7 linked regions of the Homo sapiens genome follow. The protein of the gene in region 4 purifies or fractionates together with the protein of the main gene of each other region. This does not show direct contact. Each region holds a gene or a part of one and is shown on either strand. Other genes may lie near its edges. The genes, in order: NELL1, DDX27, RALY, OBSL1, EIF5B, HDLBP and KIF22.

The links.
Region 1: the proteins of OBSL1 (region 4) and NELL1 purify together in Homo sapiens (affinity purification with mass spectrometry; 3 studies listed by BioGRID and IntAct, with this or other methods). This does not show direct contact.
Region 2: the proteins of OBSL1 (region 4) and DDX27 purify together in Homo sapiens (affinity purification with mass spectrometry, with the first as the bait; 2 studies listed by BioGRID). This does not show direct contact.
Region 3: the proteins of OBSL1 (region 4) and RALY purify together in Homo sapiens (affinity purification with mass spectrometry, with the first as the bait; 2 studies listed by BioGRID). This does not show direct contact.
Region 5: the proteins of OBSL1 (region 4) and EIF5B purify together in Homo sapiens (affinity purification with mass spectrometry, with the first as the bait; 2 studies listed by BioGRID). This does not show direct contact.
Region 6: the proteins of OBSL1 (region 4) and HDLBP purify together in Homo sapiens (affinity purification with mass spectrometry; 2 studies listed by BioGRID). This does not show direct contact.
Region 7: the proteins of OBSL1 (region 4) and KIF22 purify together in Homo sapiens (affinity purification with mass spectrometry, with the first as the bait; 2 studies listed by BioGRID). This does not show direct contact.

The regions. Positions count from the first base shown.
Region 1 is NC_000011.10:20,668,242-20,672,385, reverse strand, and holds the start of NELL1 (protein kinase C-binding protein NELL1 isoform 1 precursor), read right to left. Parts: upstream 2,801-4,144; 5' UTR 2,663-2,800; coding exon 2,608-2,662; intron 1-2,607. UniProt on the Homo sapiens protein: Plays a role in the control of cell growth and differentiation. Promotes osteoblast cell differentiation and terminal mineralization.
Region 2 is NC_000020.11:49,222,416-49,225,915, reverse strand, and holds part of DDX27 (probable ATP-dependent RNA helicase DDX27), read right to left. Parts: intron 2,960-3,500; coding exon 2,900-2,959; intron 2,649-2,899; coding exon 2,483-2,648; intron 972-2,482; coding exon 925-971; intron 804-924; coding exon 717-803; intron 1-716. UniProt on the Homo sapiens protein: Probable ATP-dependent RNA helicase. Component of the nucleolar ribosomal RNA (rRNA) processing machinery that regulates 3' end formation of ribosomal 47S rRNA.
Region 3 is NC_000020.11:34,080,911-34,083,147, reverse strand, and holds part of RALY (RNA-binding protein Raly), read right to left. Parts: 3' UTR 1-2,237. UniProt on the Homo sapiens protein: RNA-binding protein that acts as a transcriptional cofactor for cholesterol biosynthetic genes in the liver. Binds the lipid-responsive non-coding RNA LeXis and is required for LeXis-mediated effect on cholesterogenesis.
Region 4 is NC_000002.12:219,561,540-219,565,039, reverse strand, and holds part of OBSL1 (obscurin-like protein 1 isoform 1 precursor), read left to right. Parts: intron 1-1,412; coding exon 1,413-1,685; intron 1,686-2,365; coding exon 2,366-2,638; intron 2,639-3,031; coding exon of another isoform or gene 3,032-3,156; exon of another isoform or gene 3,157-3,318; intron 3,319-3,500. UniProt on the Homo sapiens protein: Core component of the 3M complex, a complex required to regulate microtubule dynamics and genome integrity. It is unclear how the 3M complex regulates microtubules, it could act by controlling the level of a microtubule stabilizer.
Region 5 is NC_000002.12:99,364,889-99,368,388, reverse strand, and holds part of EIF5B (eukaryotic translation initiation factor 5B), read right to left. Parts: intron 1-3,500. UniProt on the Homo sapiens protein: Plays a role in translation initiation.
Region 6 is NC_000002.12:241,309,173-241,312,672, reverse strand, and holds part of HDLBP (vigilin), read left to right. Parts: intron 1-3,500. UniProt on the Homo sapiens protein: Appears to play a role in cell sterol metabolism. It may function to protect cells from over-accumulation of cholesterol.
Region 7 is NC_000016.10:29,800,751-29,803,317, reverse strand, and holds part of KIF22 (kinesin-like protein KIF22), read right to left. Parts: exon of another isoform or gene 2,516-2,567; intron 550-2,515; coding exon 381-549; intron 1-380. UniProt on the Homo sapiens protein: Kinesin family member that is involved in spindle formation and the movements of chromosomes during mitosis and meiosis. Binds to microtubules and to DNA. Plays a role in congression of laterally attached chromosomes in NDC80-depleted cells.

The sequences.
Region 1 (4,144 bases), on a different chromosome or scaffold from region 4:
GCCGGTGATATCTGAGCAGCTCACTAAGTGAACCACATGTTTATTTCATCTAGGACTGTTAACAGCCCAGACAACAATTGTCCCACTTGACAAAGAAACTTTCAACGCAGCTGTTTGGATGCTGATAATCACAAGCCAGCCTTTGTTACCTAAGAAGAGGGTGGATGGATGATGTGGAAATGATTTCTGCACAGAATCAGAGGGCTGCCTCCAGAAAGCTACCGCTTATACCCTCTCAAGCTACAAGATACTTTAAGTGTACAAATTGAGAGGTAATTCCCCCGTCTCTCTGATTCTTCCGATAATGTGTGTAGAAGAAATATGCGGCCTCTAGTGTTCAAATAGTGCCAAGTGACATTGAGAACCCAAGCTCCCTAGGCAACAGCCACAACCAGTGGGTCAGATCCTTCCATGCTTCCCTGCCTTTGCTGAATCTGCTCCCTCTGCCAAGAATGCCTTCCCACTTTGTCCACCTGGAAAACTCCCTAGAAAGCCTTGAAGGTACATCTCTCAAATCCCTGACCACCACTCCTCCCTAGAATTAATTCAAACTGTCTCTCCTCCACATTTCCTTAATACAAACTTATACTCCTACCTCTCCACCACCCCCCCCATCAATCTGTAAAATTAAAATGCCTGCCAGTTTCTATCTAGATTCCCAGCTGAGCTTTAAGTTCCTAGAAGTCAAGGACTGTCATTTCCTCTTTGCATAAGAAATCCTGGCACCCAGCAAGACATCGTTTGTTGAATGAGTAAAGACATGAATGAATCTTCCCCTACAACGAAATTTTTACAAGATTTAAAGGGGATTGGAAGTGGAAAGAGGGAAAATACCTGTTCTTAAAGACCCCTTCCACAAGCAATGAACCCTGAAACACGTTCCATTCCGTGATAAGGGTACTTTGGCGACTTTTCAAAGGAGTAATGAGAACAAAGGATTTAGGCATATTCCGTAGTGATGTGCACTTAGGGATGTGAACTCACTAACGGGTTGCCCCCTCCCTACCTAGCTTCTTCCTGTCTGCGGTTCCTCTGTAAGATGTCCACGAGCACCAGACTCTCGCGCTCAGAGCCAGTAGCCCACGCTCTGCACTAGTCTTGCCTGTCCTGATCTTCCTGGGGTGCGCGCACTCCTTCAGCGTGTCCTGGTTTTAAAAGACTAACCCATCCGGATGGGCCTGAACTCAAGAAGCAACTATTCTAAGCTAGACTGAGCCTTGGCGTCTCCGCAGCCTGGGAAGCTCGGATAGAGGTAAGGAACGGAATGGGAGGTTTCTTTTGTCCCTTGAGAAATCCATATTCAACATTCTTAACCAGACGAAAGCCGCTGCCTGCTCAGTCCTGGGGAAGTGGGAAGGGCCCTCTGAAAGCTCCTAGACGCTAGATCTTCCAGCGGGCTAACTGCCAAAGAGGGGCGCCTGGGCGCAAGCGGAGGGAACTTTTGAGCCAACCAAGTGCAGACGCCCCTTCTTAGCCCTCTCCAGATGAACTTGCTCTTTGGCCTAGAGAGAAGGCCACGCCTCTAAAGAAGGAAATAAGGATGGTAAAGGGGGGAGAATAAAGGGAAAGGGAATGACCACACAGATTCTGGGGTGCAGCGCGTACGGAGGATGGCTGGGTAGGATTGCAAACCTCCGACACTCCCCCCAGTTGACAGGCCCTATTTTTGCCAATTTCCTACATCTCACCCCACCTCACCTCACCCCAGTCTCCCCGCATCTACTACTAGCTCTTTGAAGAAGGCGGCTGCAAGCCAGTCTCCGAACCCCAGGGGACTTTTGGGCAAGGGAGCCGGTGGAAGCAGAAGGAAGAAGATGCGCTGAGAGTCCTCACAACTGCGTCTCCGGAGGCAGAACGAAGTGGGGACTTCAGACAATCAAGCGTCATCCTTGCTCCCCCCTCCCCACACGGAACCCTGCGATTATGGCAAGAGAAAACTGGTTTGAGCTTGAGAAAATTTCCCCAGATTGTCTCCACTGCTCTATTTCCCTCAGATAATTGTTCGCCCAGCCCTTGGGAGCAAAGACAGGCGGAGGAGAATACTCCTGGAGTTCTCCTGGGTAGTCAGGAAGGCACAGGAGGAGATCGCGGGATCCCAGGGTTCTCCCGCAGCTCTCTGCCCTCGCCGCACCGCGCCCTCCCGGGCCCCGGCCGCGCCCGCCAGCCGGAAGCGCTCCCTCTGCGGGTGCGACTCCCGCAGCTACCCCTTCCCAGCCTGGCGGGGGTCGGCGAGAGTGGTTTCCACAGCACCTTACAAGTTCGGGAACTCGGGGCACGCGGGCCCGCCCTGCTGCGGGTTTCGACTCCCTGGGACGGAAAGCCGGTTACTAGCAGCAAGAGGGTGCGCCTACTCGGCCGCGCCCCTCACTCCTGCGCCCCTGAGGCCGGGTCCCCTGAGAAGGGGCACTCAACGGGGACATCTTCAAGCCCGTGAGTCCCTATTTTCACCCTGTCACTCCGAGCAGGGCAAAGAGATCCCAGGAACCGGTCCACGCTACCGCCGTTCCCCAGACCAGCGCAAAGCTCGGCTCCAGGTCTCCCCACGCCGCCGTGGTCTGTGGGCACCCCCATTTCCCGGATCCCTCTAACCGCCACAGTCATGCTTACCTGTCCTGGCAGTGCACACACAGAACCACACAACTAAAATCAAATCCATCGGCATCGCTCTCGAGGGTCCCCGCCTAGCAGGGGGCACCGAAGCTAGGTGGAAGCAAATGAGCCTGGATCCTGAGGCGCGCCTGGCTTGGAGCCGCCAAACTTGCTAGCGGGCGGCGGGGGAGGTGGCTCGGCAGCGCCGGGTGCTGCGCTCGCATATGCGCCCGGGAAGGCAGCCCCGGCCGCCCCGCCCCCAGCCCGCCCCCCACCGCTGGCGCGGCGGCGGCGGCGTGGGGCTCGGGGCCCGGCCCCCCGCTGCGGCTGCGTTCGTCTGGGAGCCCGGGCAGGAGCGCGGGGTTTGGCTACTGTGGCTTGTTGCGCTCCCCACTGGGGGCCGATTCCGTTCGCCTCCTTCGCCCGCAGAACTGCGAGGATCTGGACTGCAGGCGCCGCAGCCGCTATCACCCGGAGCACCGAAGTCGGAGTCCCAGGACCTGCGGCCGAAACGAGAGAGCGGGAGGCGCACGGCGCCCCCACGGCTTCACGCGCTCCAGCCCCTCCGAGCCGCAGTCGCCAATGTTGCCCTCTTTACTTCCGCACCGCGGTGGGGGCTGCCGAAGTTGCCACAGTTCATCCCCGCCGAGTCGAAAAGCCGCCGAGCCCTCGCGGGTGGGTATTTTTCCTCGGGGGAACCCAGACCGAGGCGGCGCCACCGAGCGCGCACGGACCCCCTCGGAAAACAATTACTCGGGATTCGCTCTGTCAACTGGGTGGGGAGGGACCTGAGGGGGATGATGGCTGAGTCCCTGCTCACCGCCTGTACCTTCTGTCTCCTCTCTCCTGTTGAACCCCTATGACTGAGTACTCTCTTTGTGGGTGCAGGAAGAGGGCGCTGAGGTGGGGGTGCAGAAAAGGGGTCCTCGAGGCGGAGCGAGCTGTGGTTGGGGTTTGGGAAGTCTATTTGCAAACCTTCTCATTCTGCAGGGCAGATGCTGCCACATAGGGGTAATTCCTAACCATCTTTTTTTCTTTCTTGCGTGATTTTCTTAATGGTATTATCAAAAGCCCACTCTTCTTTCATAGTCACATTTTGGCCCCATGTGCAATTCCTCCGGGACCTCCACCTTCTTTTCCCTCTCCCACCACAACATTCTCTGGAGAGAAAAGCTGGGCTGGGCTTTGTTTTCTACTTGCCGGCAAGAAGAGAATGGGTCCTCTCCCCTCTATGCGACCCTTTCAGGACCTGACCTTCCCTATGAAGATCCCCCAAATTTAAGACTTCTGTCCCACTTCCTATTTGTCCTACTAACACCTAGGAACGTTATTTATAACTGGATATGTAGAGTCATGAAATCTGAAATGACAGCCTCTGATTTATACCAAATGAACTCCACTTAGCTTGCTCAGTCTTCCCACTCTCTCTGAAGCCCCCGCTCCCCCTCACCAGCAGTACTCCTTTGATATTCACAACAGGGATCCCAGAGGAGTCCAAGGAAACCTCAGAACAGCCGTCCCTCGTTTCCTGGAAACCAATTCCAACGTTTCAGAA
Region 2 (3,500 bases), on a different chromosome or scaffold from region 4:
ACGAGTGCCAGGAGGTGTCGTCAGAGAGGGCCAGAAGGGGCAGAGCCTTGTAGGTCAATATAAGGACTCAGGCTTCTAAGAAGAGTGAGACTGGGAAGTACTGAAGGACTCAGAGAAGAAGAGGAGGGACACGATGGAACTCATTGCTTAAGAGAGTTCTCGGCCGGGCGCGGTGGCTCACGCCTGTAGTCCCAGCACTTTGGGAGGCTGAGGCGGGCGGATCACGAGGTCAGGAGATCGAGACCATCCTGGCTAACACGGTGAAACCCCATCTCTACTAAAAATACAAAAAATTAGCAGGGCGTGGCAGCGTGTGCCTGTAGTCCCAGCTGCTGGGGAGGCTGAGGCAGGAGAATGGCGTGAACCCGGGAGGTGGAGGTTGCAGTGAGCCGAGATTGTGCCACTGCACTCCAGCCTGGGCGACAGAGTGAGACTCCGTCTCAAAAAAAAAAAAAAAAAAAAGGGAGTTCTCTGGCAACTGTATGGACAAGAGTTGAGGGAGGCAAAGAGAGAAGCAGAAAGTCCAGTTAGGGGTGGCTGCAATAATCCCATGGTTGCCAAAATAAGCCACTACTGGCCAGGCACAGTGGCTCAAATCCCAGCACTCTGGGAGGTTGAGGCAAGAGGATTGCTTGATGCCAGGAATTTGAGACCATCTTGGACAACATAGCAAGACCATGCTTCTACAAAGAAAATTTTTGACAAGAAGCTGCTACCTTCAGAAGAGGGCGGGAAAGGTTCATGTCCTGGAACGAGAGGTTTTCATCGTACTGAGATGCATCTTCAAAAAATCCTCCTGCTTCCTACACCAGAAAACCAAAAGAGAGAAGAGAATTCAACAAAAAGAGCCAAGAAACCCAAACGACCTTAAACTCCTTTCGGTTTGCCAACAAGCTGCATACTGTCTTGCAGCCCCAAGCTCACCTGTCCTTTCTTCTTCTTCTTCTTCCGATCCTTTACTTTGAGTGTATCTATGGAGAAAAACTTAGCTGATGACCACGGCTCAGACTTACAAAGCACTTGCATCCTGCTGGACACTGTCCTAAGTGCCAATGCCACACTTCAGCCTCTGAGGGGTGACCATCGTCAACCTTGTTTCACAGATGAGGACACTTTGTGGCAGCATGGTGAAGTAACTTGCCTAAGGTCAGAGAGAAAGCTAACCCAGTGACTCTGGTCCAGAGACCAGGCTCTCGACCACTACACTGTATTATGATGCTTTAGCACACATTTCTGCAAGAAATACTTATTGAGGGCGGAAGCAGTGGCTCCCGCCTAAAATCCCAGCACTTTAGGAGGCCGAGGCAGGTGGATCACCTGAGGTCAGGAGTTCGGGACCAGCCTGTCCAACATGGTGAAACCCCATCTCTACTAAAAATACAAAAATTAGCCAGGTGTGTTGGCGTGTGCCTGTAGTCCCAGCTACTTGGGAGGCTGAGACAGGAGAGTTGCTTGCACCCGGGAGGCAGAGGTTGCAGTGAGCTGAAATTGTACCACTTGCACTCCAGCCTGAGTGACAGAGTAAGACTCCATCTCAAAAAAAAAAAAAGAAAGAAAGAAATACTTATTGAGCACCCACTATGTGGCTGGACCCATCTGAGTATGTCACCCCAAATGAGTTTGTATCACAGTGGCATCTGGCAGCCGCATGGGGCTAGATGGGAAAAGAGTAAACTACCTATGAAGTACAACAACCCAAACAAAATCCCAAGAGAAAAGAAAACCTAAAAGAAAGGATTCAGCGGGCACAGTGGCTCACGCCTGTAATGCCAGCACTTTTAGAGGTCAAGGCGGGAGGACTGCTCGAGCCTAGAAATTTGAGACTAGCCTGAGCAACAAAGCAAGACCCCGTCCCTACAAAAAAAAAAAATTAGCCAGGCGCAGGGGCATGCACCTGTAGGCCCAGCTACTTAGGAAGCTAAAGCAGGAGGATCACTTAAGCCAGTGAGTTCAAGCCTTCCAGTGAGGTATGATTGCACTACTGCACTCCAGCCTGTGGATGGAGTGAGACCACATCTCTTTTGTTTTGTTTTTTGAGACAGGGTCTCATTCTGTGGCCCAGGGTTAAGTTCAGTGGGACAATCTCAGCTCACTGCAACCTCTGCCTCCCAGTTTCAAGTGATTCTCGTACCTCAGCCACCTGAGTGGCTGGGATTACAGGTGCATGCCACTACACCAAGCTTATTTTTGTATTTTCAGTAGAGATGGGGTTTTACCATGTTGCCCAGGCTGGTCTCAAACTCCTGGCTTCAAGCGATACACCCACCTCAGCCTCCCAAAGTACTGGGATTACAGGCATGAGCCACTGCACCCAGCCAACATCTCTTAAAAAAAAAAAAAAAAGAAAGAAAGGAGTTCAATGTAGTAGGCAGAACAGCTTAAAGATAAACTGTGCAGAAGAGTGGAGGAAACCCTACAAAGTAAAGGAGGATGCCTTCTGATCTCCTGTCCCCATTACTGACACCTCCGCCGTAACGTCTACCTGCTTTGGTGAGGATGTTCTCATCAGCTGATGAGTAGTCAGTCTCCGAGGCTTCATCTTCTGAGCCTTCCTCATCATTCTCTTGAAGGTCTTCCTGCTCCTTTGGTTCAGAGCCTTCCTTTGCTTCTTTCTCCTTTTCCAACTTCCCAGACTTGGCTTCTTTATCCTGGGAAAAAAATTAAAGTGAGGGTGATGAGAAACTTCTAGAAATCCAGAACCTAAGTAGAGCGATAGGAAGCTCTCCGGCCTGAATGAACGGCTGTGGGGATTCTCAGTACAGATTCACAGCAAACACACAGAAGAGTGCGCCTGCCCCAGCCATGCCCCGCTCTATAAGGGCTTCCAGAGAGATGCTGGGGTCGTGGTGAGAGTAAAGAGTGGGCCCTAACAACGAAAAATAGCCACTTTTCTTCTCACCTCTGTTTTCCTTTTCTTTCGAACTTTCTCAATCTTCTCATCTAATGTAGTGGCTGCCCTCTGCAGATAAAAATAAAGAGGTGAAAAAGAAATTTTCATTGAAACATCGAATAAGAGAACAAACTCTTCATAATTAACTTGAAAAAGAAAAAATTTTGGCCTTCTCTGAAAATACATATACATATTATATATATAAAAATTTTAGGCCGGGCGCGGTGGCTCACGCCTGTAATCCCAGCACTTTGGGAGGCCGAGGTGGGTAGATCACCTGAGGTCAGGAGTTCGAGACCAGCCTCAACATGGAGAAACCCTGTCTCTACTAAAAAAATACAAAATTAGCCGGGTGTGGTGGTGCATGCCTGTAATCCCAGCTACTCGGGAGGCTGAGGCAAGAGAATTGCTTGAACCTGGGAGGCGGAGGTGGCAGTGAGCCGAGATCACGCCATTGCACTCCAGCCTGGGCAACAAGAGCAAAACTCCGTCTCAAAAAAAAAAATTTTTTTAATCCTCTCCAGACGATCTTGAAAATGCAGTGCTGGTAAGGCTGAGCACAGTGGCTCATGCCTGTAATCCCAGCTACTCAAGAGGCTGAGGCAGGAGA
Region 3 (2,237 bases), on a different chromosome or scaffold from region 4:
GGGGGTGGTTTGTTATACAACAGTCAGTAACTGAACAAAGGCCCATTTACTATCCCTGATCCAGATCAACCTCTCATTTTACAGCTGAGGAAACTGAGACCTGGTAAGGAAAAAGACTTGCCCAGGGTCATCAACCTGGCTGGCAGCAACAGGGGGAAAGTCCCAGGCCTCTTAGCTCACAATCCAGTATACCCACTGGCTGCTCTATTCTTTCAAGATGGCTGTGAGGATCACAAATGAGGCTTTCAATCTGAAAACATCTAAAGACTGATCCTTTAGGCAGAATCCGGTACCACATTTATCACCATCTCCTTCTGGAGTTTTCAGATGTTAGAAAAATGACAACTGTTGCGCAGCGGAATGGATGTTTTTGCTGCCCCGACTCAGAGGAAGGGCATGTGTATGCACTGTTAGAAGCCAACCTCCCACCCAAGGGCCTGGCTGTGTGCTTTCCCAGGGGCTGGAGCATCCAGGGGCTTTTCTGGAGTTCCAGGATGGGACTCTCGTTCTCCCTGTCCAGCATATGACCCGGTGCCAGCATGACCAGGCAAAGCCTTATGGGCCAAGGTGAGTAGAGCTGATGCCTGCTACCCTTGAAGGTATCTTCCCTGCTTTTCTCACGGTTCTCCAAGCCTGGCATACTAAGGAAGCCTATGGTCACAAGCCCATGATCAACCTGACCCTCAAGCTCTGAAACGTTGAGTTCCTCAGTAAAGCATGCTTGGGTAGGACCTGCAGCAGGCATATAGCACTAGGCTCTGGGGGCAGTGCCTAGTGCTATTGTGCCCTCAGTGTGAGGTTCATTCAGCTCTAAATCCCATTCTTTGGACTTTGCCCAAGTTCCAATCCAGGCTAGCAGCTGTCCCCCATGTTTCACAGATGGGGACACCAAGAGCTAAGGGCAGTAATGACTTGCCAGGGTATTGAAATGGGTCTGTTATAGCTGGCTCTCGCCTTCTGGGCAAGGAAAGATGTGGGTACATGGATGGGTGAAGTATGTTCCACTGAGAGCTCTTCAGGGAGATGAGGCACTCCTTGCAGACCTAGCCCCTTCCTCTGTACACCCTCTTCAGCTCTCCAAATAGAAGCCTTTTGATTTGACTAAGCTGGGCCAAGGCCCAGCCCAATTCCAAGGGGCCTGTTTCTCACCCCATGCCTGCATCTCATGGCCTCAGGGCCTCAGCCTCCACCATGGGCTCTTGACAAATCTCTACTCTCTCCCTGCTGCCCAGGGTCCATGGCAAGCAAATATATGGGGACCGTGATCCCCCTGGGGCAGCTAATACTCAGGCAATGGCCAAGCATGGATTGGGGCTTTTGGCTCAGGTATGAAGCCAGAACTCTGGCCACCTTGGGGCTGGCCTAGTCAGGCCCCAGCAGAGCTTGGGAATATCAAAGCACAGAGCTACACTGGGGCCTCAGAGTGCTCGCCTGCCCAGGATGACAGGCAGGAGGGCTGCTCAGTGAGAGAGACTTCCCGGTGGAGTTTGAGCACTGCCCAAAGCCTCCACCCTCTACCAAAACATGGAGCCAAAGCCCAGGAGGAAGCTTCCCTGGAGGCTGTAGACCGGGTTGGTTTGAAATGGGGAGTTTTCAATAAGGATTCCAGCAGATCTGCAAACTTTGATCAACACGTAAAGATGGAGGGAAAACCTAAAGCCCTTTTTGATGATGGGATTGAATTTTTCTGTGTTGGGGGAAGGCTTCCAGAGGAGAGAACAGGCAATTAAAGAGCAGTCGGAGGGTCTGGGAGACTTCTCAGAGGTGGCGACACCACAGCAGCAGCTTCGTCCTGAGCGGCTATTTCCCAGGTAGAGAAAGTAGGAGCAGGAGGAGTACGTGCCAGGCCTGGAACAAAGCCTATTTCTGGGTGCTGCCCTCCCACAGCTCCATACCAACGAGACCAGCCTAAGTGGCCACATATGAATCCCGCAGTTCACTGGACCAGGGTAGGTACTTGTAACCTATGAGTGATTAGGAAAAAAAATTACAGTGGCAGTCGATTCTCTCTTGGGAACTTGAACATGGGGAAAATGGATCCATTCATTGTGGGGAATGAAGGGGGAAGTAGGTGACATTAGCAGTACACAATGAGCATGTATAAGCAGCACACGTTTGAAGGAACCCGGCTGATTGTTAGAGAACAAATGTCTAGACGGGTGGCCCAAGACAGGGGCAGACAGGCTGCGTGTCTCCGGATGCAAACTTCCTACTGATTGCTGTCACTGGAGTACGCT
Region 4 (3,500 bases):
GCTGGAGGGCAGTGGCGTGATCTCAGCTCATTGCAACCTCCGCCTCCTGGGTTAAAGCGATTCTCTCACCTCAGCCTCCCAAGTAGCTGGGACTACAGGTGCGCGCCACCACGCCCAGCTAATTTTTTTATTATTTGGTAGAGACGGTTTCACTATGTTGGTTAGGTCACCCCTGACCTCAAATGATCTGCCCGCCTCAGCCTTCTAAAATGCTGGGATTATAGGTATGAGCCACCATGCCTGGCTTTCTTTCTTTCTTTCTTTTTTTAAGATGAGGGTCTCACTGTTGCCCAGGCTGGCCTTGAACTCCTGTGCTCAAACGATCCTCCTTCCTCAGCCTCCTGAGCAGCTGGGATTATAGGTGTGTGCCACGCACAGCGTGCCTTTGCCTCCTAAACCCCTGATACACTAACACTGTCTCGCTGTCCACATAGCCTCTGCTGGGTTGGGTGGGGGAACAAAATGCAATTAAGGGGAGGAGAGATGGGAGCAAACACTTTTTGGACACTTACTCTGAGCCAAGCACTATGCTAAGTATTTTCAATATACACTCTTTCATTTAATCTTCACAACTCGATGAGGGGCAATATATCTCCAGTTCACAGGCAAAGAAATGGAGGCTGTAAGAGGTTATGTGACCTCCGTCACACCATAGCTTGGCGACACACACAGGATTGTTCTGTTCCTGCTGCCTCAGATAGAGTCAAACAGAAGCATCGAGTGCAGTCACCCCGTGGTTCTCACAAGGCAGTCCGTAGGCTGGCTGCTTTAGGAAGCTCCTGGAAGCTGGTTATAAATCCCTGGACTGTCCAGAGCCCCAGTATCCAGGGTGGAGCCTGAAGATCCTTTCCTAACAAGTGCAGACTCTCTGAGAGAGCAGCTTGGGAACCATGGATCCCACTCATCTCACTGAGTGGGAGTCCTGTTTTCCACACTGTGGCCCCTGCCTGAATGCACCCAGTGACAGGGAACCCACTACCTGGAGAGTGGCTGTCTCACTGTTGCCACTTGTTGGATCATCCTTCACCTCCTGCCCACCCTGGGGTCTTTCTCGTAATAGAGGCAGTAAGCATGGCCCTGATGTGACTTGTGACAGTGACCTCCCTTCAGCCTAGACAAATGGTGGCTGCCACTCTGTGAACTCTCTGTGCTTCCTTCTCTCTATGTACTCACCCCGCCACCTCTGATCCTTTGGGGACCTACAGAGCACTCTGGTGCCACATGATCTCCTGCCATGCCTCACCTGCCATGCCCTCAGCATTCCTTGTCATTGTCCCTGAGTCCCTACACAGCAGGACCTTAGCCCTCCTCCAGTGTCCTCTTGTGCAGAAACAGTGTCTCCTGGCCACACAGCTAGTTTGGACTCATTGTGCGGGGGTGTCTGTGCAATGCCATCTCTGCTTCCCACCCAGATCCTCCCGTGCACATCGTGGACCCCCGAGAACATGTGTTCGTGCATGCCATAACTTCCGAGTGTGTCATGCTGGCCTGTGAGGTGGACCGAGAGGACGCCCCTGTGCGTTGGTACAAGGACGGGCAGGAGGTGGAGGAGAGTGACTTCGTGGTGCTGGAGAATGAGGGGCCCCATCGCCGCCTGGTGCTGCCCGCCACCCAGCCCTCAGACGGGGGCGAGTTTCAGTGCGTCGCTGGAGATGAGTGTGCCTACTTCACTGTCACCATCACAGGTGGGGGGCCAGGTGGGCCTCGGAGGCACAGGGGAAGGTGCCCCTGCTCCCACTGGAACAGCTGCCACACCTTCACTCCCAGGCCACTGTTCCCCGCCCCTACTGCCCTCCCCCTGGCAGATCGGACCTCCTCCCTTTCTCCTCAAGCTATGGTCTAGTCACATTCAGGAAACGTGTTATCATAAGCACATTGGTCTTGGCTAAGGAAGCCTGGCTTTCTCTATTCTCCTGAAAACCTGTACCAAGGGAAATCTCTGGGGACAGTGAGTCTATTGCAGGGTAGGGCAGAGTCTAGGGCTGGTGGTCTCAGGCACTAGGGGGGCAAAAACATCTTGGAGGAGGAGACCCCCAGCTCCTCCCCCCAACCCTCCTCTCATCAGTTCCACCCTTCATACCGTCCCTGTCCCAACCCAGAGAATGTGGAGCGTTTCTACAGCCGAGGCTGACCCCGTGGTCCCCTCTGTGCAGCTCCTGCGCAGCAGAAAGTCTGCTGTGCTTTTGTGACAGCTGTATTCGTGTGTCTCTAGCTGTGAGTAACTGTCAGCTGCTGTGAGATTTGGTCTCAGGAAGGTCCCTCTTCAACACATGGCCTACTTTCCAGGGGTAGGGAACACAACGGGGTCAGGGAGGACGGCAGGGCACACCCCTCATGCCCGGCAGTGGCTGTCCCTGTCCTCCAGACGTCTCCTCGTGGATCGTGTATCCCAGCGGCAAGGTGTATGTGGCAGCCGTGCGCCTGGAGCGTGTGGTGCTGACCTGTGAGCTATGCCGGCCCTGGGCAGAGGTGCGCTGGACCAAGGATGGAGAGGAGGTGGTGGAGAGCCCCGCGCTGCTCCTGCAGAAGGAAGACACTGTCCGCCGCCTGGTGCTGCCCGCTGTCCAGCTCGAGGACTCCGGCGAGTACTTGTGTGAAATTGACGATGAGTCGGCCTCCTTCACTGTCACCGTCACAGGTGTGGGCCCAGCCCAGCTCCCCGGGGTCACAGAGACAGCCCTGAGCCCTGGAGGAGCTGGCCACATAGCCCCAGCTAGCACCCCGGGGAGGAGGGAGGTGTGGGCTGCAGGTGCATGTGCCAGGGTTCTTGCTGAGATGAGCCCAGGGCCCCTATTCAAGGAAACAAGCCCCTCCCCGGTGCCCAAGGCCAGGCCTAGCTCTGCTCCACAGCTCATTTACTGAGCACTTTCCCTGAATCAGGCACTGGGAGTAGCAGGTGAGTAATGCAAATACGGTCCCTATTCTGAATGAGCTGCCAGGCTAGGTGAGGAGGCAGCTGTTAACCAGGGGTCGCAAACGGGTAGTCCTGGGGCCCTGCGCATTCCACACATGTGCTTTGTTTGGTCTGCAGAGTCTTACCAAAGTCAGGACAGTTCAAATAACAATCCGGAGTTATGCGTCCTCTTGAAAAAGCCGAAGACCCGGCGGCTCTGGTCCCGCTTCCCCCCATGGCGACGAACAGCTGGCACTGAGTAGCAGCTGCCCCCATAGTTTGGGGCCCACATTCCTCTGTCCCACCTCCCTGCCATTGCTTTTTGCCTCTCCCCAGACTGCTTCAGCCGCTAACCTAACCTGGCCCCTGTGGGCATTTGAGTTTGCGACCCCTGTGTTAAACCAATAAACATGCAAATAAATGTACAGTGACACCTGGTGATAAGTACTGTGAGGGCCAAGGGCAGAGGGCTCAAGAGCACAGAGCAGGAGGGTCAGGGAGGCCTGGGAGAAAGTCACCCTTCCACACACGGGAGCCAGCAGCACGCAGACACGGCCGCTTCCCTCTAGGACTGCACAGCCTGGCAGGAAAGCCAGACGCATTCCAG
Region 5 (3,500 bases), about 120 Mb from region 4:
AAAATATGAAAGGATATTCATGGAAAAACTTGTATCTTTTACATATAAGGTATTTTAAAATTTACATACAGTAAAAATCCTCGTTTCACATACAGTGAGAGTTTTGATACGTGTATCACCATCACAATGAAGATGCAGAAAAGCTCCATCACTCCATCATCCTGTGCTGCTCCATGTAATCAAACCCTCCTTACCTTCTTAGCCTCTGGTAACCACTGATCTGTTCTCCAACCAAAAGATTTGCTTTTTCTAAAATGTCACATAAATGGAATCTTACGGTCTGGCCTCTATCATCATAATGGATTTGAGAGTCACTCACTCTGCTGCACATGTCAATACTTCGTTTACTTTCATTGTTGGGCAGCATTCCATTGTATGGATATATCAGTTTGCTTATCCATTCAACAGCTGAAGGACATTTGAGTTGTTTCTGGTTTTTTGCAATTATGAATAAAGCAGGTATGAACATTTTCAGACAGGTTTCTGTGTGAACATTTCTCTTGGGCAAATATTTTGTAGTGTGAATGATGAAACATAAGGTAAATATGACCTTAATTTTTATAAAGACACTGCCAGTTGTTTTCCAAAGTGGCTATACTATCTTGCATTCCCACCACTAATGCAGAAGAGTTTTGGCCAGGCGCAATGGCTCACGCCTGTAATCCCAGCACTTTGGGAAGCCGAGGTGGGTGGATCACCTGAGGTCAGGAGTCCAGGACCATCCTGGCCAACATGGTGAAACCCCATCTCTACTAAAAATACAAAAAATTGTATTATATAAAATATATATATATTGTGGTGGTGGGTGCCTATAATCCCAGCTACTCAGGAGGCTGAGGCAGGAGAATCACTTGAACCTGGGAGGCAGAGGTTGCAGTGGGCTGAGATTGCGCCACTGCAATCCAGTCTGGACAATAGCGAAACTCTGTCTCAAAAAAAGAGAGAAAAAAAAAAAAAGAGTTTCAACTGCTCTGAATGTGGTAAAGGTTTCTCTTTTTTTAGAACATTCTTTTCAGATGCGTATAGCTTTCTGGTGAAAGTGTCTGTTGATACCTTTTGCCCATTTTTAAATGAACTTATTGGTTTTCTTATAGTTGAATTTTGAGAGGTCTTTATATATTTTGGATGTTAATTCTTTCTCAGATATCTGACTTGGAGGTACTGTCTTGGAATTCTCTTGACAGTGTCTTTTGCAGAGAAAAGTTCTGAACTGGTCTTTCTCAAAATGTATCTTTTTTCCTTTTATGGTTTAGAGTCCTATCTAAGCACTCTGCCTAACACAAGATATCCTCCTATGTTTTCCTCTGAAAGTATTATTGTATATTTTACATTTACATATGATACCCATTTGGGTCAATTTTTATACAGTGGGAATTAAAACTGGTTTTGGGTTTTTCTGCATACAGATGTCCAATTGTTCTAGTACCACTTGCTACAAATACTGTATTTTATCCACTGAATTACCTTTCACCTATATACTAACCATGTATAGACTATTTATCTGTTTGTCTATCTTTCTGGCAATATCACACTGTATTAATTCCTATAGCTTTATACTAAGTCTTGAAATCAGGTATTCTAAGTTTGTTCTCCTTTTTCAAACATATTTTGGCCATTCTAACTCTCTGGTCTCTTCATATCCATTTTAGAACTAGTTGACAGATAGCTACAAAATACCATGCTGTGATTTTGACTGGGATTGAACTGAATCTACAGATTACTGGATTACTGACTCAGTCTCTCACTATGGGCAGAAGCCTTAGAATAAAGACAACAGAAATTGTATACCATGGGATTTTGAATGAAGTCACTAATAAAGGAAAATGACTAAAAATGTTATCTCTAACGTAGGAATGTATATGGATGTGTGTTGTGCATGTACTGAAGAATGGCTAGAATGGTAAAACCATAGCTATGACTGGTAAGACGAATACATTAAACAAACCAAAGAAAGAGGATAAAGCCAGCTGAGAATGCAGAGATCATCACTTTAAGTTTTCCTTGCCTAGCAGCCTACACCTACTAAGATGAAAAGCATGGGCCTGAGGGGAAACTGTAGGCTGGATTACCTGAAGGGTGGTCCCAATAACACCCTAGACTTAATCAACTGACTACTGCTCTAGTCTCAGACTCTCAAATAAGCTGCTGTACTTGGAATCAACACCAAGACTTGTATGTGTTTAGACATTCCATTCACTTTGCAAACTGAGACATAACAATCAAGTTCTTGAAGAAGCTCTTTGCCTGAAATGAGTTTATTACAAATTATTGATAAAGTACTCATATATGTGTGTGTGTGTATATGCTTAGTAGTCACAGGCTAAAGGATGACTGAAAAGTTAACCTGCTGCACATTTCAGAGCAATTATATGAAGACACCTGCAGATGCCTACACTCTCTGAGAGTACATTTTTAGCTCAATGAATAAGTTTTACAATATTCTAGGTAATAAATGTGGTAAGCAGCTGTCTTTCAAACATACGATGAAACAACACTGTAGGATCTTTTAATGAGATGACTCACATGAGTGGGCTGTGGGTGGGGGGGAACCTTGAATGTCAAGCTAAGGAATTTGGATTCTTATTAGTAGACAATAGGGAACTAATAAGATGGTAAACACTGGACAACACTATGAAGAGTAAGAGACCAGCGTCAGGGATGCCACTTGAGAGAGCATCTCTTACAAGCCTAATGCTAAAGACTGATGCTAAAAGTCCACCATTCTACACTGTAATTTCCATAACTACAAGTCTAACTGCTCCTTAAAACAGCATTTTTGAGACTGGCAAATTACTCCCTGCTTGGTCCCATCTGAATTTCTTCATGGGTGCTTTTAGCCTCTCCAATAGTCACCAATGAAATCTGATGTATGAATGCTAACTATATTCAAGTTTGTACCTAATTTCATTTAAAATTTTACAAAAGCTATATTCTCCATTAAGAATAAAACTTTCTAAAATCTAAGTACTGGGTTTCTTCACATCTAATGTTCCTAGCTGAACATATGCGTAAGAAAAAGTTGCACAGACCAGCTTAAATTTCAGCTCTGTGGCCTTGGGTAAGCTGTTTACACTCTGAACCACCATTTCTTCATCTATATGATGGAAGTAAAAATAGCTATAAGATTTTTTTATGAGGGAAAAATAGACAATGTCAAAGACATTGTAGCATCAGTTACACACTAAGCACACAATAAATGGTAGCTATTACTGTAATTATAGCATAAACACCAAAATGACTGTAATATAAAAATCTAGGGAATATAGGAGCAGGAAATTTAAGAGAGGTCCCAATATATTCTTCTCATTGGAGCAAAGACACTATTTTAAATCACCTTACCTTTCAAAAAAGTAATAAATTATATGCCCAGTTGTGATCTCTAAACACTATTACCCTCTAAAAGGAACAAAAGCTCTTTGGATAAACAACCGATTCCAGGTCTCAGCCCATGCAAGATGAACCTGGGATATCTTGTTGCATCAGAAAGTAAGGAAAGGGTT
Region 6 (3,500 bases), about 22 Mb from region 4:
AAGCTTTTCCCTCTTTTGGTAAGAAGTAACCAAGTTCTGAAAGAAGCATATCATGCGGCTTTCCCAATTGCCAAGTTATGATGACACAAAGTCCAAAATGCGTGTAAAGGTTTTTGACCAAGTAGAAAAGCAGAGAACCCCAACCAGTATAATGTGTCAGAATGCTTTTTCTCTTCAATTGTAAAAGCACCACAACGTTCAACATCTGGAAACCAAGAAAATAATGAAAAGAACCTTTTTTCATGTGTATAATATTTTAAAACTTGGTTACATGTTATTTTTTGGTATTTCTAAAGTCAGAGACATTTTAGAAGTGAAATCCCTAGTAGGCTATTGTTTTACCAAGCACACTGAAGTTCCTCGAATACCGTTGAAGATGAGCTAGACATTTGTTCTGAGACGTGTCTGGACATCATGTGGTTGTGTTAGTCATCTTGTTGATACTTGTTGTTAATTTGGTAAGAATACATTGACTACATACTCTCCCTTACTACTTTTTATTAGCATTCATATTAATCTTATTTCAAATCAAGGTTACAGCTTCATGTCATTTGTAGAGTCAGATAATCCTAGAAAGGCTTGTAAGAAAGAAGTGCCAACATCCTTCCCCTAATCATGTTTCCTCCCCTGCAGAGTATCTACTTCAGCCTTAGTAGATTTCCTTGATCTTTGCCTCCAACTCTAAAGAGCATATTTGCTTGACGTCTGTATTTGTGTCTCCTACCCCTGTTTCATGTGATGTCTCTTCGCTTGACACTGAGAATAGGTAGGAAGTTCCTAGCTTTCTTTCACCCTCTGCCTTCTCAGTGCAAACGGATCCATGGCTGCCCAAAGTGATATATCCTTAATTTGGTTAGTTCAGTATTGATTGTTTATATTATGACTACATATTGCCATTTACAGCTGGACGAAGTGGTATAATAGGATTGTTTTCACTTTTCTGGATAACTTTTTGTTTTCCTGGGTTATTACAAGTCTTATTTGTTTTTGTTTGCTTGCTGCTTGCTCAGTTTTCTATATTTTGTCACTACAATTCAACCCCAAATTCTGAAGCAATTATCTAAATCTTTCAAGAAATTGTCCGTTTTCTTTTGAAGAAAATTAGTATTCCTATCATTTTATCTTGAATAAATCTCTCCCAGCGCCTCCAATCTGCTGCAGGCTTGTCTGTGCCTGAAATCTTCCTGTAACTCTCCTCACTCCCTCTTGTGTTGGAGCCTCACTTTTCTGGAACCTATGTCATTCTCTTGATTTGACTGTCTCACTTCGATGGAGCACATCCTTCACTAGTTGCCTGAGAAGTGCATGGCAGATGAAGTTTTCAGAATTTGTATGTACGAAAGTGCCTCGTTCTGCTCTTATCCTGAGTAGGAATTTGGACATCATTTTGCTCCGCGGTCTCTAAGTTTCCAGTGTTGTTGAAGTCTTAAGCCGTTCTGATTCTCTTTTATTGATACGTAACATTTTTAGAGCCTTTGTGTGTGACTATGTTTTCCTCCATGAAACCTGAAGGTTTTTGTTTCTTTTTTTTCTTCTTTCTTTCTTTTGTTTTTTTTTGAGACACAGCGTCTTGCTCTGTTGCTCAGGCTGTAGTGCGGTGGCGCTGTCATAGCTCACTGCAGCTGCAATCTCCTGGGCTTGAGTGATGCTCCTGCCTCGGCCTCCCAAGTACCTGGGACTACAGGCATGCACCGCCACACCTGGATAATTTTAAAAACTTTTTGTAGACATGAGCTCTCTATGTTGCCCAGGCTGATCTTGAACTCCTGGCCTCAAGTGATTCTCCTGCCTCAGACTCCCGAAGTGCTGGGAGTGAAGGCTTTGCATCTGGCCTCAGAGGCTTTTCTTTCTGTGAAATTCAGAACTCCCAGAACAGTGATGTCCCTTGGAGACTGTTTTCATCCATCGTCTTGCCTACTCTTTGGTCCTGTTTATTTGCAACTCATGTTCTTCAACGCTGGGCATTTTTTTGATTTATTGCTTTGATTTCTTCCTATTTGCTTTCTCTCTCTCTCTCTAGAATTCTACTCTTGGACTTTCTGGATTGGCACTCATAATTTTCTTAAGGTTTCTTTTTCCCCCCTCTAAAATTTTTGTTTTTGTTTTTATCTTTTAAATTGTAAATTGACAAATTATACTTGTACATATTTAGGGGGTACAAAGTGATGTTACGATTTATGGATACAATAAATAATAAAATCAAGTTAACATAATTCATCACTTCAAATACTTTAAGTTTTTTGTGGTGAAAGCATATGAGATTACTGTCAGCACTTTTGAAATCGACATTATTATTTACTATATTCACCGTGCTGTACAATATATCTCATAAAAGAAAACCACATTCCTCCTGTCTAATTGATGTTTTGTACCCTTTGGTTTTTCATTTTCTTTCTGGAAGTTATTCTCAAGTTTGTCTTCCAGCCCTTCTACCAAGGTTTTTCTCATTTCTAAGAGCTTTTTCTTGTTCCCTCTATTCCTATTTTATAACCTATTTTTTGTTTCATGAATGTGGTATCTCCTGTTAACTGTTGGAAGATATTGATGAGGTTTTATTTTTCCCTGTTTTCTTTTTCCTTAAGTCACTATTGAGGCTGCTCTGGTTTGTTGTGGGTTTTTGGCTTTTGTCAGCCTTTTCTGGGCTATGCAGTGATGTTCTTGTGCCTGCTCGTGAGTCAGAGGGCCTCTGAGCCTGTGTCTGTGGCTGACTGTGGCTTTCACTGCAGAGGCACCTGGCTGGGCCATTTCCTTACAGCACCCTTGTCAGCTTCTTTGGGTTTCTTCAGATTCCCCAGAGAAATATCTTGTAGCCCTTTGCCTGGCTGAGTGGCCAAGTGAGGAGAGAGGCCTGGGAGCACAGCAGTAACCATAAAAGAGCTTACTTCCCTCTTTTCAGAATTGTTTCCCTCCTCTGTAACTGGTGTCCCCAGTCCAAAGATTCTACTTCCCTTTGCAGACAGAAAAGCGATACCTTTTTGCCAGGATAGGAGAGGGACTGTGCAGGTTGGCTCTGTGTGGCTGTGCAGAGTTGTGGGGTGCATCTTAGGGATCTTCGTGCCTTTTAAACCTATCAGCCAACTCTGTTTTTAATTCAGGTCTCCTGGCTTCCAGTCATATTGCCAGTTGGCCTTCCCCATTGCCGATACAGGATTCAGCCCTTTTAGGTCTGTTTCCAGTTTCTAGCCTCCAGTATTTTAATGTTCTTATCTCTATTCTTATTCTTTGCTTTCGTGATTTGTATCTTAAAAAAAGAAAAAATCGTTTACTATCATTTTAGTGGTGCTTCACGAAGTAGTGTAAATGTATTGATCTGACAACGGCTCGTGCTGGAGACACTGTTCCAGGAAGTGGGACACAGTAAGGAAAATGCAAGTGTGTTCTCCTGCACTTTCACGGAGGTCACGTTTTGGTAAGCGGTGTCAGGCAGTCAGCAGACCAGCAGATATGCAGTATGTCCAATGTGGACAAGAAGAAAGGAGGAAAATAAAGTATCGAGGGGA
Region 7 (2,567 bases), on a different chromosome or scaffold from region 4:
AGGAGACAGGTGGAGCCTAACATAATTAAGGGCTTTCTGTGATTAGGGGGCTACCCAGAGGTGGAACAAGCCTCTGCAAATATTGAAGGGAAAGGCTTTTCAAGCACAGTCCTCAATTAATTGAGCTGGGCTTTAGGAAATGTAATGTTTAACATTTGTTGCTTTTACTTTGAACTTTTTCTTCTCACCCTCACATCTGGTCTCAATTGTCTGTCAAAGTTCAGCCATGTTAAGGACATTCAAGCAGAAGCTGGAGAACTTCCGGTATTGGGAGAAAACTGGACTCTAGTCCAGCCTGAGTGTCCTTCCCTGTCTGAAGATCCAAGGATTGCTTCTCAAGGCCAATAGGAATCCAGCTCCCACATCCCTAAAACACGTACCTCAATCTCTAGGTCCTTCTCTTCCACTGTCTTCATTAGCACCATCCGCTCTCGCTTTGGGGTACTCAACAGAGGGGCCCCCTGGCTCCCCTGGGAGGCAAGCAGACGGTCCAAGCTGAGGAGGCGCTCCAGCATGGCCGGGTCCATGCTGCTTAGCTTCTGTAGGGGGCTGAGCAGAAAAAGAAGTTGCTCCCCACCTACCTCCTCCCTCATCACCACCTACAGCAGCAGGACTCCCCTCACCACACCTTAACTTGGTATATCCTGTAGCTCCAGAACCTAATGTTAACTTGCTAGGCATCCAGTTTCTCTGGGTGCAGTGTCTTCATCAGGTGAAGTGACTGCTCGGGGATGCCAGGAAATCAGGCGAACACTTGAGTGCCAGGTATGAGAGACCTAAGACACTGCCCTGCCCTGGAGGCACTGTCTACTGAGGAAATCAAGAGACCATAATAAGGTGACAGCCAGGACAGTGCCTATCCATTTGGAGGAGCAGTTGCGGAAAACATCACAGAGGATGCCATCTTTAGCAGGGCTTTGAAATCCACCGAAGACCTCAGCTGCCAAGCTTCCCTGCTGTGGGCAGCTGGGAAGGCCTGTTCAAGCAGTCCTGACTGACTCTGAGCACGGTAAGGCTTAACATTCTTTTTTTTTTTTTTTTTTTTTTTTTGAGACAGGGTCTTGCTCTGTCACCCAGGCTGGAGTGCAGTGTTGAGATCACAGCTCACTATAGCCTTGGCCTCCTGAGGCTTAAGCAATCCCCCTGTCTCAGCCTCCTGAGTAGCTGGGTCCACAGGTGCATGCCACCATGCCCAGCTAATTTTTTTATTTTTTGTAGAGATGGGGTCTTACTATGTTGCCCAGGCTGGTCTTGAACTCCTGGGCTCAAGTGATCCACCCACCTTGGCCTCCCAAAGTGCTGGGATTACAGGTGTGAGCCACTGCGCCCAGTCAGCAACGTCTAACATTCATTTATTTTGCCTGGAATCTTGCCCCACACCTCCTCACATCTGTATCAATAATCTTTCCAGGTCAGTTTGATGCCACCTTTCCCATGACGCCAAGCTTAACAATGCATCTCCCTTCCTATGCTGTGAACTGGCTCCTGGAGGACAGGGACACTCCTGTGCTTTCCATGCTAGTGCCTTGGAAAAACAGGATCAGAACATACGTGGGCAAACACTAGAAGTCATCTCTTCCTTCCTGACTCTCACAGCAGCAGCAGCTACTCCTTCCTGATTCTGAATTCTCCACCTGGTATCATATACTGATGTTCCCATCTGACTTGCTCTCCTGTGAGGCCCCCAAGCTCTGGGTCTGCTGGGTTTGATGTGCCCAACTCTGAGCTTCCCCTTACTCAGAGTGCCTGTCTGACAGCTTACCTGTGCACATTTCTGGGTGCACACAGCAGTGGGGAGTGCTGACAGATGGTTTGGGAAAGACAAGACTGAGAGATGGGGTCATGAGTGCACAAGCATCTTCTTGTGTGTGGCATCTTCCTTAACTACAGTAGCCCCCTGGGACAGAGTGGGCACTAACCCTTGGCCACCTCAGGTCACCTCTGTTTAGTAGTTCACAGGCTTTATTTGGGCTAGGGGTAGAAACAGGGCAAAGTTAAAACTGCAACTGGCTCCTGGGGGGTGGAGGGAATAGCGCAAGGGCTAAGTGGCCAGACACAGAAAGCAAGACCCCTGAACAGAGATGACCTGAGGATTAGTACATACTGGGCCATGAGGTGGGGTGATTGGAGTTGGGGCAGGAGGTGACACAAAGGACTTAGTTTAGAGGCTTTATCTGGATTGAGGGTAGACGCAGTTAGGACAGCAGCTGGCTCCCCGGAGAGTCATGGAGAAGCTGGGCACTGACACACAGACCAGATGGTCTCAGCAGGACAGCTCTTCCAAGTCTCCTTTGCTTTGCTCTCATGGATCTGAAAGATCTGATCCAGATCACTCCTTGAACCAGAAGCAAAAATGCTCATCCTTGAAACAGCTGTCCCAAAGTGAGAAGTTTTGCTGAAGGCTAAAGGGGTTGGAAAATGGAAAGGATCCCCAGGAGGAGGCCTCCTTAGGTCCCCAAGGCAGCAGCACTGAGGAGAGATTAATCTTAGACTTTAGTGATTCAATGGAGTAGAATTTGGGGGGAATTTATTTATTTACTTATTTATTTATTGAGATGCAGTCTTGC